Regions from separate parts of the Homo sapiens genome. Here region 1 is linked to region 2. The links come from fine-mapping of genetic effects on gene expression. Tissue or cell type: esophagus muscle. Region 2 holds a variant in brackets; the other region holds the start of a gene. All regions are shown on one strand. Distances are between the middles of the regions. Region 1 holds the start of CHROMR (cholesterol induced regulator of metabolism RNA). Region 2 overlaps OSBPL6 (oxysterol binding protein like 6).

What was found. PIP is the estimated chance that this variant, and not a neighbour inherited with it, causes the effect.
Region 1: it holds the start of CHROMR, and the variant in region 2 is fine-mapped to the expression of CHROMR in esophagus muscle (GTEx, PIP 0.97).

The regions. Positions count from the first base shown.
Region 1 is chr2:178,411,470-178,417,005 of GRCh38, reverse strand. It overlaps CHROMR (cholesterol induced regulator of metabolism RNA), which reads right to left and starts at 3,347. Exons shown (of 5, transcript NR_110204.1): 1 at 2,893-3,347. RefSeq lists enhancers at 1,856-2,430, 2,218-2,477, 2,979-3,178, 3,008-3,583.
Region 2 is chr2:178,389,228-178,394,227 of GRCh38, reverse strand. OSBPL6 (oxysterol binding protein like 6) reads right to left here. Exons shown (of 25, transcript NM_032523.4): 22 at 3,011-3,155; 23 at 1,690-1,816. Among named protein-coding and RNA genes, the nearest start is that of CHROMR, 22 kb to the left of the region's middle. The variant T/C (reference allele first, on the strand shown) is at 2,006.

The DNA of each region.
Region 1 (5,536 bases), 23 kb before region 2:
CAAGCAATAGGTCACATTCATATCATAGTGTGACCTCTGGCCCTGCTTTTATATGTAGGGTGTATGTGAACCCGCATAGTCACTAGTAGGAGTATTCCTAGAAACCATTCCAGTAGTGGTATGACCATTACTTAACTATACATGGATGTGACTACAAACCACATACATATATCCCATTAAACCCAAACTCAATGTAGTCTCAACTCAATTTATCCCTTGGCCAAATCCCAGAAATGCCCGTGATCACTCCAAAACTTTAAAGTCGGGGGTTGTGCCTAGCCAGAGCAAGGAAGAGTATTGGGATGGGAGACAAGAGGGAAGTCAGAGTGGGAAGAGACAGCAGGTCTAACTGTCAAGGGCCGAGCTTAGTTCCAGAGAGTTGAGGTGCCAGAAGTCAGAAAAGCAGTGAAGACAATAAGCCAATATGAAAGGAAGGGTCAAGGCTTTAATCCCATGCTGTGATAGAATGGCACCAATCCAGGGTCAGGTGGATCAGCACAGCTTTGCTGAGAGAACCCTTGAACAAAAGGCTCCTGCAGTTTTATGGACCCAGGGCCTGGGATGAGGAGAAGGTGAAGGACTTAGAGTGGAAAAGTACTCAGTACTGAGTCCGAGTGGGGAAAAGTGTCTTCAAGCTTCCTCCTGTCCTCCAATAAGGAGATGTCTGCAGGAGTCCCTGAGGAAGCTCTCCCTCTACATAGAGACCTCCAAATGGACCCCATAATGACTTGGTCACTCTGAGTCATTGTTCTCTGGCATCCTTAATTCCAATATTCTTCACATCACATGAACTCTTTGAGCCTCAGTTTCCTTACCAGTAAAATGGGGATAAACTGCTCTACCTTCCTCTCAGGTTAGAAAGATGAAATGAGATAATAAATGTGCAAATGCTTTGAAAACCTTGAAGATGCACAAATGTAAGCCATTTTCTCCTTAAAAAGTTATGAAATTGAGGTGGCCAACTCTAATATAAAATTCCCTCTGTAACATTTCAACTTAACAGGCTTTAAGGGATCAGCTAAGTAAAAAGCAAATGTTTTACCCAAGCACAGGATTCCAAGGTTATTTATGGCATTCTCTGAATCTCTGTAGTACTTCCTATTGTTACAATCTGTCCTGCATTGTCTGATGATGGCCTTTTATCTTAAATGAGGCTGAGACTTTTTGTTACTATTACATCGGCACTGTCTGAAAAAATATAATGCAAACCATATACATAATTTAAACATTTCTAGTAGCCACACTCTTTGAGAAAAGAAACTGATTGAATTATATTCTATTTAACCTAATATGTCAAAAACATTATCATTTTAACATGTAATAAATATAAAAATTATTAAGATATTTTACATTCTTTTTTACATACTATGTCTCTGAAATCCAGCCTATATTTTATATTTTACATTTACAGTACATGTCTTTTTTTCCTTTTTTTCTTGGAGACAGAGTCTTGCACTGTTGCCTAGACTGGAGTGCAGTGGTGCGATCTCAGCTCACTGCAACCTCTGCCTCCTGGGTTCAAGCAATTCTCCCATCTCAGCCACCCACGCTCAGCTAATTTTTGTATTTTTAGTAGAGACAGGGTTTTGCCATGTTGGCCAGGCTGGTCTCAAACTCCTGGCCTTAAGTGATCCGCCCACCTTGGCCTGGCCTAGCTGTCACTGACTTTGTAAGGAGTTTCTGCAAATGCTTCTTCAGACTTTTCCCACGTTTTTTAAAACCCCTATTTATATTACTACTTAATGGCAATTTCTTCCACGGTCACAGAGAACACAAAGACCTTTGATTTGCTCTTTCCACCACAGAATATCACTCTAGGAAAGCATTCCATCATAATGTATATAAGGTGCCTAAACTGTGCTATAATCTTAAGCATTACAGGGACTCAGAATGAGGTCGTTAAAGCAGTGTTTTCCAAAGCGTGTTCCGCTGACCTAATCCCATACTCAGCGTATGCAACTTGATATTTTAATTTGTACCCTAGTGATCTAGTCTTATGCCTTCTGGGTACATATTGCATCATATCTTTAAACACATCCAGCTTCTAGAATGGTGCTGTACACGCAGGAGGTCGTTGAGCTTCACCTTCCTGCTAATGACAAAATCAGCAATTGCCTTTAACCACAGGAACTTCAGCCCGTTGGTCACTAGGGGGAGACACACACGTGGTGGGCCTCTCCAGGCTCCTCAAATCCCGCCAGAGTCGCCACTGTGTAGTCTGCCCAGAGAAACCACACCCAGTCTTAGGAAGAGGAAACTGACTGCCATCCATTTCACGCTACTGTGGCCGGCGAGCTCAGAGTGGAATCATTTGCAAGGCAGCTCCTCCAAGAATAACCAAGCCGAGATCTAGCTGATCAACGATTGAATTTAGAGTAAAACTTGACAGAATAAAACTCCCTTCGGTTTGTCCGTACTACCTGGGTTTGCAGAAATGCTTTTCCTTAGCATTTAATTTTGGGACCTGTAAATATAACTGCTTTTTAGATGCATTCCATAATCCTCAATTAACTTACTGCAGTAAAAAGATAATTAGGTTAATATAAACTGCTCCAAGGGGTTTCTGATCAGACTGAATTTTATTTCATTTGAAATAAGGTCGTTGTTTAATCTTGCAAGTTAAATAATCTTGATTTTACGCTGAATAGGGGCCTGAGATAGATGAAAGAAAATTTCCTTTTCATACATGTGAGAAATAAACTGTTTCTTACACTCATATTCACAAGTGTGACCGTTAGTCCAAGTTGAGGCAATTAACATATTTAGGAAGAAAAAAACTTCCTCACAGAAGGATTGGCATTGGCCCTTCTGAACAGTATTGCAAAGTCTGAAGGAAAAACCCTATTGACACCACTTTCTAGCCAAATGCTATAGGACGATATCAATACTTACTGTACTGAGTGGGCATTTATTTAGTTATTTCACAGTGAAGATATCTTTTCTGGAAAATTCCTCATAAGAAAACTGAAATTCAAGCTCCTGCTCGTTCTTCAGCCACCGCTACTCGTTCCTGCTTTTTGTGCCCATAGGTTCTTCTGCCCAAAACAAAAGCTGTTAAATCACCGCGGCGGCGCTGACGTCAGGGAGCAGGGCCGCGAGGCCCCACCAGGTCGCCAATGAAGCCTCCCCTCGGCTCTGCCGGGGGCTTTGCGGGGCGCATAGAGGCTCCCAGGCGGATAGAGGCTCCCAGGCGGAGGAGTCCGGGAACCCCTAAAGACCCTTTAGGAAGCAAGGTCCGGAAAACCAAGCACGAGCAAGAGGCCCCGGGCGGCTGTATCCCTGCCCGGCGAATTCAGAGGGAGCGGGCGCCGCGGCCACCCAAGAGCAACGAAGACGGCGGCGCGGAGGAGAGGATGGGGAGGGGTGTGGGCCGCCCAGAGGCGCGGAAGCTGGGAGCACCGCGCGGCTTAGGAACTAAAATAAATGCTTGTCTGAATCTGCCCCGGGTGGGGGATGAAGGAACAAGGGCTTGGGAGGAGACCGATACATTTTAGAAATTGCCGGTGGGGGAGCCAGGGGCGGTGGCTCACGCCTGTAATCCCAGCACTTTGGGAGGCGTAAGGCGGGCTGATCACCTGAGGTCGGTAGTTCGAGAGAGACCATCCTGACCAATATGGAGAAAGAAACCCCATCTCCACTAAAAATACAAAATTAGCCGGGTGTGGTGGTGCATGCCTGTAATCCCAGCTACTAGGGAGGCTGAGACAGGAGAATCGCTTGAACCCGGGAGGCGGAGGTTGTAGTGAGCCAAGATCATGTCACTGGATGTTATTTGTTAATTTTTTGATGTACACTGCAAGATCACACAAGAAATGAAGCTATTAAGCCCAGGTATTGGGCCTTTTATAGGGGTGTTTTTTCATGGTGAATGGGTAAATATGTCTCTACTTTGTGTGCTTATTAAACAACCCTGACTATGTGGTCTTGAAAGGAGAGATCCTGCCTTAGTTTCGCCTCTCATTAGCCTTATGTGAGAGCTTTTTTTCAGAGACAGGCAACCAGGAATATTTATTCCAGAAGCAGTCATTGCAGTGGAGAATTTGGGGTTTGAATCATAGAAGACAGAACTAGATAAAATCCTAGATGTTACCTCCAATCCCTTCATTTAAAAATTTGAGGTCACCCAGGCCAGGTGCAGTGTCTCACGCCTGTAATCTCAGCACTTTGGGAAGCAGAGGCAGGTGGATCACCTGAGGTTAGGAGTTCGAGACCAGCCTGGCCAACATGATGAAACCCCGTCTCTAATAAAAATACAAAAACTAGCTGGGTGTGATGGTGCACACATGTAATCCCAGCTACTAGGGAGGCTGAGGCAGGAGAATTGCTTGAACCCGGGAGGCGGGGATTGCAGTGAGCCCAGATGGCGCCACTGCACTCCAGCCTGGGCGACAGCGCGAGACTCTGTCTCAAAAAAAAAAAAACAACAACAAAATTGAGGTTACCCAAATTAAGAGAATTGGTAGTTAAGACAGACCAAGATTAATAACTTTTAGACATTTGTAGACCCTAGTTATTGGGGGTGCTAGACTCTTAACACTTTTCCAAGAAAAGGGGTAAATCTTGTGTTTCTTAATTCGGAAGGAAAAAAAAAATCTACCACTTGCAATTTGGCATGGGCCAGAGGCAATATTATCAGTTATATGCCTCTACGGTGTGATATTGAGTGATATACATGGAGAGAATATGGGCTACATTTTATGGTTTACTGTTTTGGGGAAATGAGGCCTTTGACATGCAGGGTAATTATTGCTGGGGACTCTGCTCAATAGGAGGCCATCACCTGGGCCCCATGCCAAAGGGAAAGCTTGTAAATTCCACTTCCCTGGAAGGCTGATAACGTGTAATAATCATGACATGGATTACTTGGTCCTGTTGGGTCCCAGCTTGTGAGATTCTTTCTGATCAAAGTTACCATCATGGGCAAACTGTGGTTAAATAGGCTTTAATCTCTGTGTTCATAAAGTTCTATTATCCTGGTCCAAGAGATTGGCAGTCTATAACTTCCTTTTTTTTTTTTTTAACACAAACATGAAATTAACACTTTTTGCTCTAAACTAATTAAAGATTCACGGGAAGTTGCAAAGGTAGTATGGAGATGTCCCTGTACCTTTCACCAAGTCCTTCAGTGGTTACATCTTACATAAATATAGTGCAATATCAAAACAAGGAAATTAACAATGGTACAACATGGATATAGATGTCATTTTTTTATTTAAAAATTTTACTTGTGGTAAAGTACACATAACATAAAATTTACCATCCTAGGCTGGGCATGGTGGCTCATGCCTGTAATCCCAGCAATTTAGGAGGCCAAGGTGGGGGCAGATCATGAGGTCAGGAGTTCGAGACCAGCCTGACCAACATGGTGAAACCCCATCTCTACTAAAAATACAAAAATTAGCTGGGCATGGTGGTGCTCACCTATAGTCCCAGCTACTCAGGAGGCTGAGGCAGGAGAATGGCTAGAACCCGGGAGGCGGAGGTTGCAGTGAGCTGATATTACTCCGTTGCACTCCAGCCTGGGCGACAGAGTGAG
Region 2 (5,000 bases):
TTGCTATGAACATAAAATACCGCACAGTAACGGACGGAGTCTTGCTCTGTCGCCAGGCTGGAGTGCAGTGGTGTGATCTCAGCTCACTGCAACCTCTGCCTCCCAGGATTTACATATTTTCTATGTACATGAACTGAATTATTATAATCAGCAATATCAGTGAAAGGTGGGTGGTTTGGCCTTGAAGACTTTTCTATGCTGTCTAGGGTTCTATAACTTGAGATTTTCAGGACAACTGCAGAGTCCAGGGTGAGAAGAGCGTGAAGTCATAGCCATGTTCCTTTTCTATATTATCAGAAAGCTTTTGCTAAAAGGCCATAGAATGGAGGATGGTAACTGGCTATTCTCCGTCTATTTTGAGAACAGGCTGAGAGGGAAGGAGCTTTCCTGTTTTACTGGAGAGGGCAAAACTGATGAGAAAAGAAAAGGTAATGGGGAAAATTACAAAAGGCCACAGAATGTGAAATGAATAGTAAATGAAATTCAGAAAAGGAACACTGAAATAGAATTGAGAAGGAAAAAGCAGACTGAATGGTGACTTACAAATGCTTACATTTCAAAATGAGAGCAAAGAACAGGAATATAATATGCTATACATTGTACAGGAAGTTTATTAATAAATTTGAATGTCAAATAGCAAGACAACATGTTCTAGAGAGAGAGGGCAAAATAGAAGAGAATTAAATAGTGGAACATTCAAAACTGAGAGCATTTTGGCAGATGGCAGATAAAGCCACAAATACATGGGAAACAGAAAATTGATCTTGAGTGGAATTTGTATGGCATATAGAATTTTTGGGAAAAGTAAAATGAATTCCATAGGAATGGACATCATGAGTTCAGAGCTACATAAGAATAAAAAACTAAGAATCAGAAGGTATTAAAGGTACTGTATTTTGAGTATATCTCATACTCTGTGGGATCAAAACCACATTGGGCAAATTGCAGACTTGCACTCAAAGCATTTCTGAGTTCCCCTGTAACTTATCCTATTATTCTTCAGTTTAAAAGATACTCCATGTTACAGAGTTATAGAAGTAAAAAGGTCAGAAACACTGGGTGAGGACTGATTATATATTTAAGAAAGAGTTCACAAATTTACAGACCTTTGGTAAATTTTAGGGGGAGGGAGAAACTTTGTTAAAAAATATCTCTGTTATCTTATCTTCTGTGGGGAACTATGTGCTGAGATAATCTGTTATGATCATTCTATGAATACTGCTTTTCCTGGCATAGAAAACTCAAATATTGCTGAGTGAATAAGGGAATGGAGAAAGGATTGAATAAAAATACATGATGGTAGTAAAAATAAGTCACAATGACCTCTAAAGCCCCAAGCCATAATAGTCTGCCTTTTTTTTTTTTTTTTGCCAGGGTCTCTCTCTGTTGCCCTGGCTGGAGTACAATGGTACAATCATAGCTCACTGTGGCCTCAACATCCTAGGCTCGAGCGATCCTCCCACGTCAGCCTCCCTAGTAGCTGGGACTTTAGGCATGCCCCACCACACCCAGCTAATTTTTAATTCTTTTTTTTTAGAGATATAGAGTCTCACTATATTGTCCAGGCTGGTCTTGAATTCCTGACCTCAAGTGATCTTCCCTCCTCAGCCTTCTAAAGTGCTGGGATTATAGGCATGAGCTACTGCACCCAGCCATAGTCTGCATATTAAATACCACTGCCATCCTCACCTTTGATCTGGCCGGAACCGGGCGTCTGTTGGTGGAAGGAGATCTTTTAGTACTGGATCTAACTCATTGAGCTCAATAGCAAACCTTGTGAAGCCATAGTACAGCTCATAGTTTGTTGGCATGGAACCTGGAAAGAGGCCAATGAACCACTGTGAGAGGCAGAAGGTTTATGGAACTGGAAGAAGCTGACTTACCCTAGTACTTAGTACCTACACTAACACCAAATTTGTAGTCATAAACACAAGATTATAGATTTTTTCAAGTGAATTAAATTGGTGGTATTCCTAGGTAGGAAACTTTGTGTTGATGATCAGAA[T/C]TGACAGATTCATATATTTAATACAATCCTGTCTTTCAAACAAAACTGCACATATAGTAGTCTTCATTAGCTAAACTACTCCATAATATTTCTCTTGAATATTCAATTGGTTAACTAAATACTATGGCAATTAACTATGAACATTAAGAGTACACCAGAAACACTTGTTTGCTTCCTTTTAGAAAAGAAAAATATGCAGACCTAAATTAATATTTTTTGCCACTTTTTAACTAAACTTGAAGGCAGGATCTTTGTATGTCTTGCTCATTGACGTATCCCGAGCTCCTGGAATAAAGCCTGATGTACAGCCAGCACTCAATAAATAGTTGCGGAATGAATAAGCTAGCCACTCTACTAGCGGGAAATTTAAATACTCATTGATGTCTCTTAGGAAACTAACAACTAATTTTAGTTAGGGATTAACTGACAAAATTCCAGTGACAATAAATGTCATGTGGATACTTGTTCCATTTATACTTGATATTCAATCATAAGCTAATGTGTTATCAGAACTCTTTTGATGTCTTTTATTAAATGTCAACATATTGCTGTCTCTTGAGGCTCAAGTGAAAAGATTACTTATTCTGGTGAGTTATTGAATTTGTGGATTACAAATGTTTGTAGTCTTTGTTTTATTAAAGCAGAGAATAAATAACATGAGTAAGGTTTTAAGTTTGTATACTTCAATTATCTAAAGTCTTTAATAAATATACCTAGCTTTTCAAATGTAGGCATTACACTTTGAGCAATTTTTCATGAAGCCCAATCTCTGACTGCCTGTCAGAGATTTGGCCTACATTCTTTATTATGAAATATCAAATATTGGGGCTTATGTATAACTTCTATGTTAAGTATGAATGTAACTATAATTGCCATAAGCATCTACGCTTTTAATCTCACTCTTAAAGGAAACATAATGTGAGTTGCATAAGATGACCTGATGTTCTCTTCCCTTCTGTTGTCCATAGTGCCCTCCTGTTGGCAGAACACTCAGGCCACTCTCACCTGGTCTCCAAATGCACTTTGCAGAGGGGGCCACACCACAGTAGAGTCCTTCATGCCACTTTCCAAACAGCCGGTACACCGCCTTCCCCTCCTGATCTATCACCACCCCCTGGACTTCATTCATGTTAGAATTCCAATAATTCACCTGGAAAAACCAAACCCCAATTGTGACATTTGATGGCTTTAATAACATCATTCCCTGTATTTTCCATATAGAAAAATTTCTTAGCCTTGAAGTCCCTTATTCAAACCATTTTCAGAAATACAGAAATCTCAAAACGTTTTATATGGAGGGCTGGCTTTCTAAGAGTTAGCTTAACTTTCAAGAAAGGGATGGTCTCTATTCCACGCATAACATGGTAGTATATCACAGAGAAGGCTCAGCTTCTATCCCAAGAACCTAATATTAATTTCTAAGCTAGCAATTTTTTTTCCTCTTGTTTTGAATTTTCCTCTTGCTCATGGATTTTAATAAATTTCAATTGGCCATGCTGCAGAAATTGTTTGTGAAATAATTTTCATAGTATCTATAAATGGCCAAATTTTATGAGGAGGGCCCTCAAGTGGCCCTTCCAGCCATACTCCTTCCCAAGGGATAAGAAGTCTATGGGAGTTTGCCTACCCCATGATTCCCCTTCCAGATCAGGCCCCAAGTATACAGGACCCTAGAATTCCTTGTCCAAGTAGCTCCAAGGTTATTCCACAGCTGGCAAGGCCCTTTTCCTTGGATTCATGCACCCAAGGGCAGACCACCCACCAGCGTGTGCACCTTTAGGTCTGAAGAGTGGCCAAGGGTGGTTGTTTGTGGGGGTGTGAACAGAGCTTAGATGTGTGGGCTGGCCTGCCTGTATATGTGTGTATGAGGCCCCTTGCAGTCAAAACAGAGCCAGAGGTGGGAAGAAAGTAGGGAAGGCCGTGGGCCAGGACTGGCTGTCCTACATTGCCAGGGTTACAGCACAGAGTTCTGAAGGGTCCAACCTGGCCTCACAGGCTTTGTTATAAAAAGTGTATTTGTCAAGGCAAAGAAATAGAGCATATTCTATTTTATAGCTTACAGACTTGATTTACATATTTTAGTTAATTATACAGGCTCTGCAAGTGTTAGAGACAGGACTGCACTGCAGCTTCTCATAGCCTACAAAGCCAAATGTACATATTTACATCATCACCCAGCCAGAGCACATAGTGATCTTGGCTCTTCAGTTCTAGGTACCTTACGAGTCTCTAAGAAAAAAGGTAGTGAAAACATTTTGGGCTAAAATAAAGACACTCAATTAAAATAAATACAACCTTCCAATATGGCTTAAAAGGATTTAACTGAGAAAAGAAAATATTAGAGTCTTAAGACTCCAATATGTTACCTGTTTACCATATTAGAATGGGATCATGAATTGAACAGGTATGGTAGCTGGGTGGGGTTTCTATACTATGTTGAATTCTGTAGCACATCCAAACAAACACGGCAGTGATACTGAATGTTCCACTTCAGACCAGAGAAACTGAGGGAAAATGGTGCTTTTTGGGCGTTTCTATCCCAACATATTTTCTTGTTAATGAGGCTAATTTTTCCTGTTGAACTTATTTGAATTATAACAGTGGCAGGGTTGGATAAGCATGTACTGACTGGTGGTGATCATCTACATGACTACATCAAGTGTCTTCAGAAAATGACAACATTATAATGAGTTCCCGAAATTCAGATCACTTGAACACATATCAAGCAGGAAGAGAAACAGAAATATAAACCAGAAGATTTATAGTCAAGAAGTGTTTTCTGGAATTTTACTTAGTGAACAACTGACTGGCTACTTCAAAAGAAAATTCTTTAAAAAGACATGTGTTTTTTTTCTGTTTTAGATGATGCCTTTTTTGACCTCCATATGTTCAGAAACTTGCATGCCTTGAGAAACTCTATCAGTTTGTTCTGCTTTCTTATCTAAAATGTCCGTAAGGACCAATGATACAGGACAGATTCACTTGCTGCTATTTA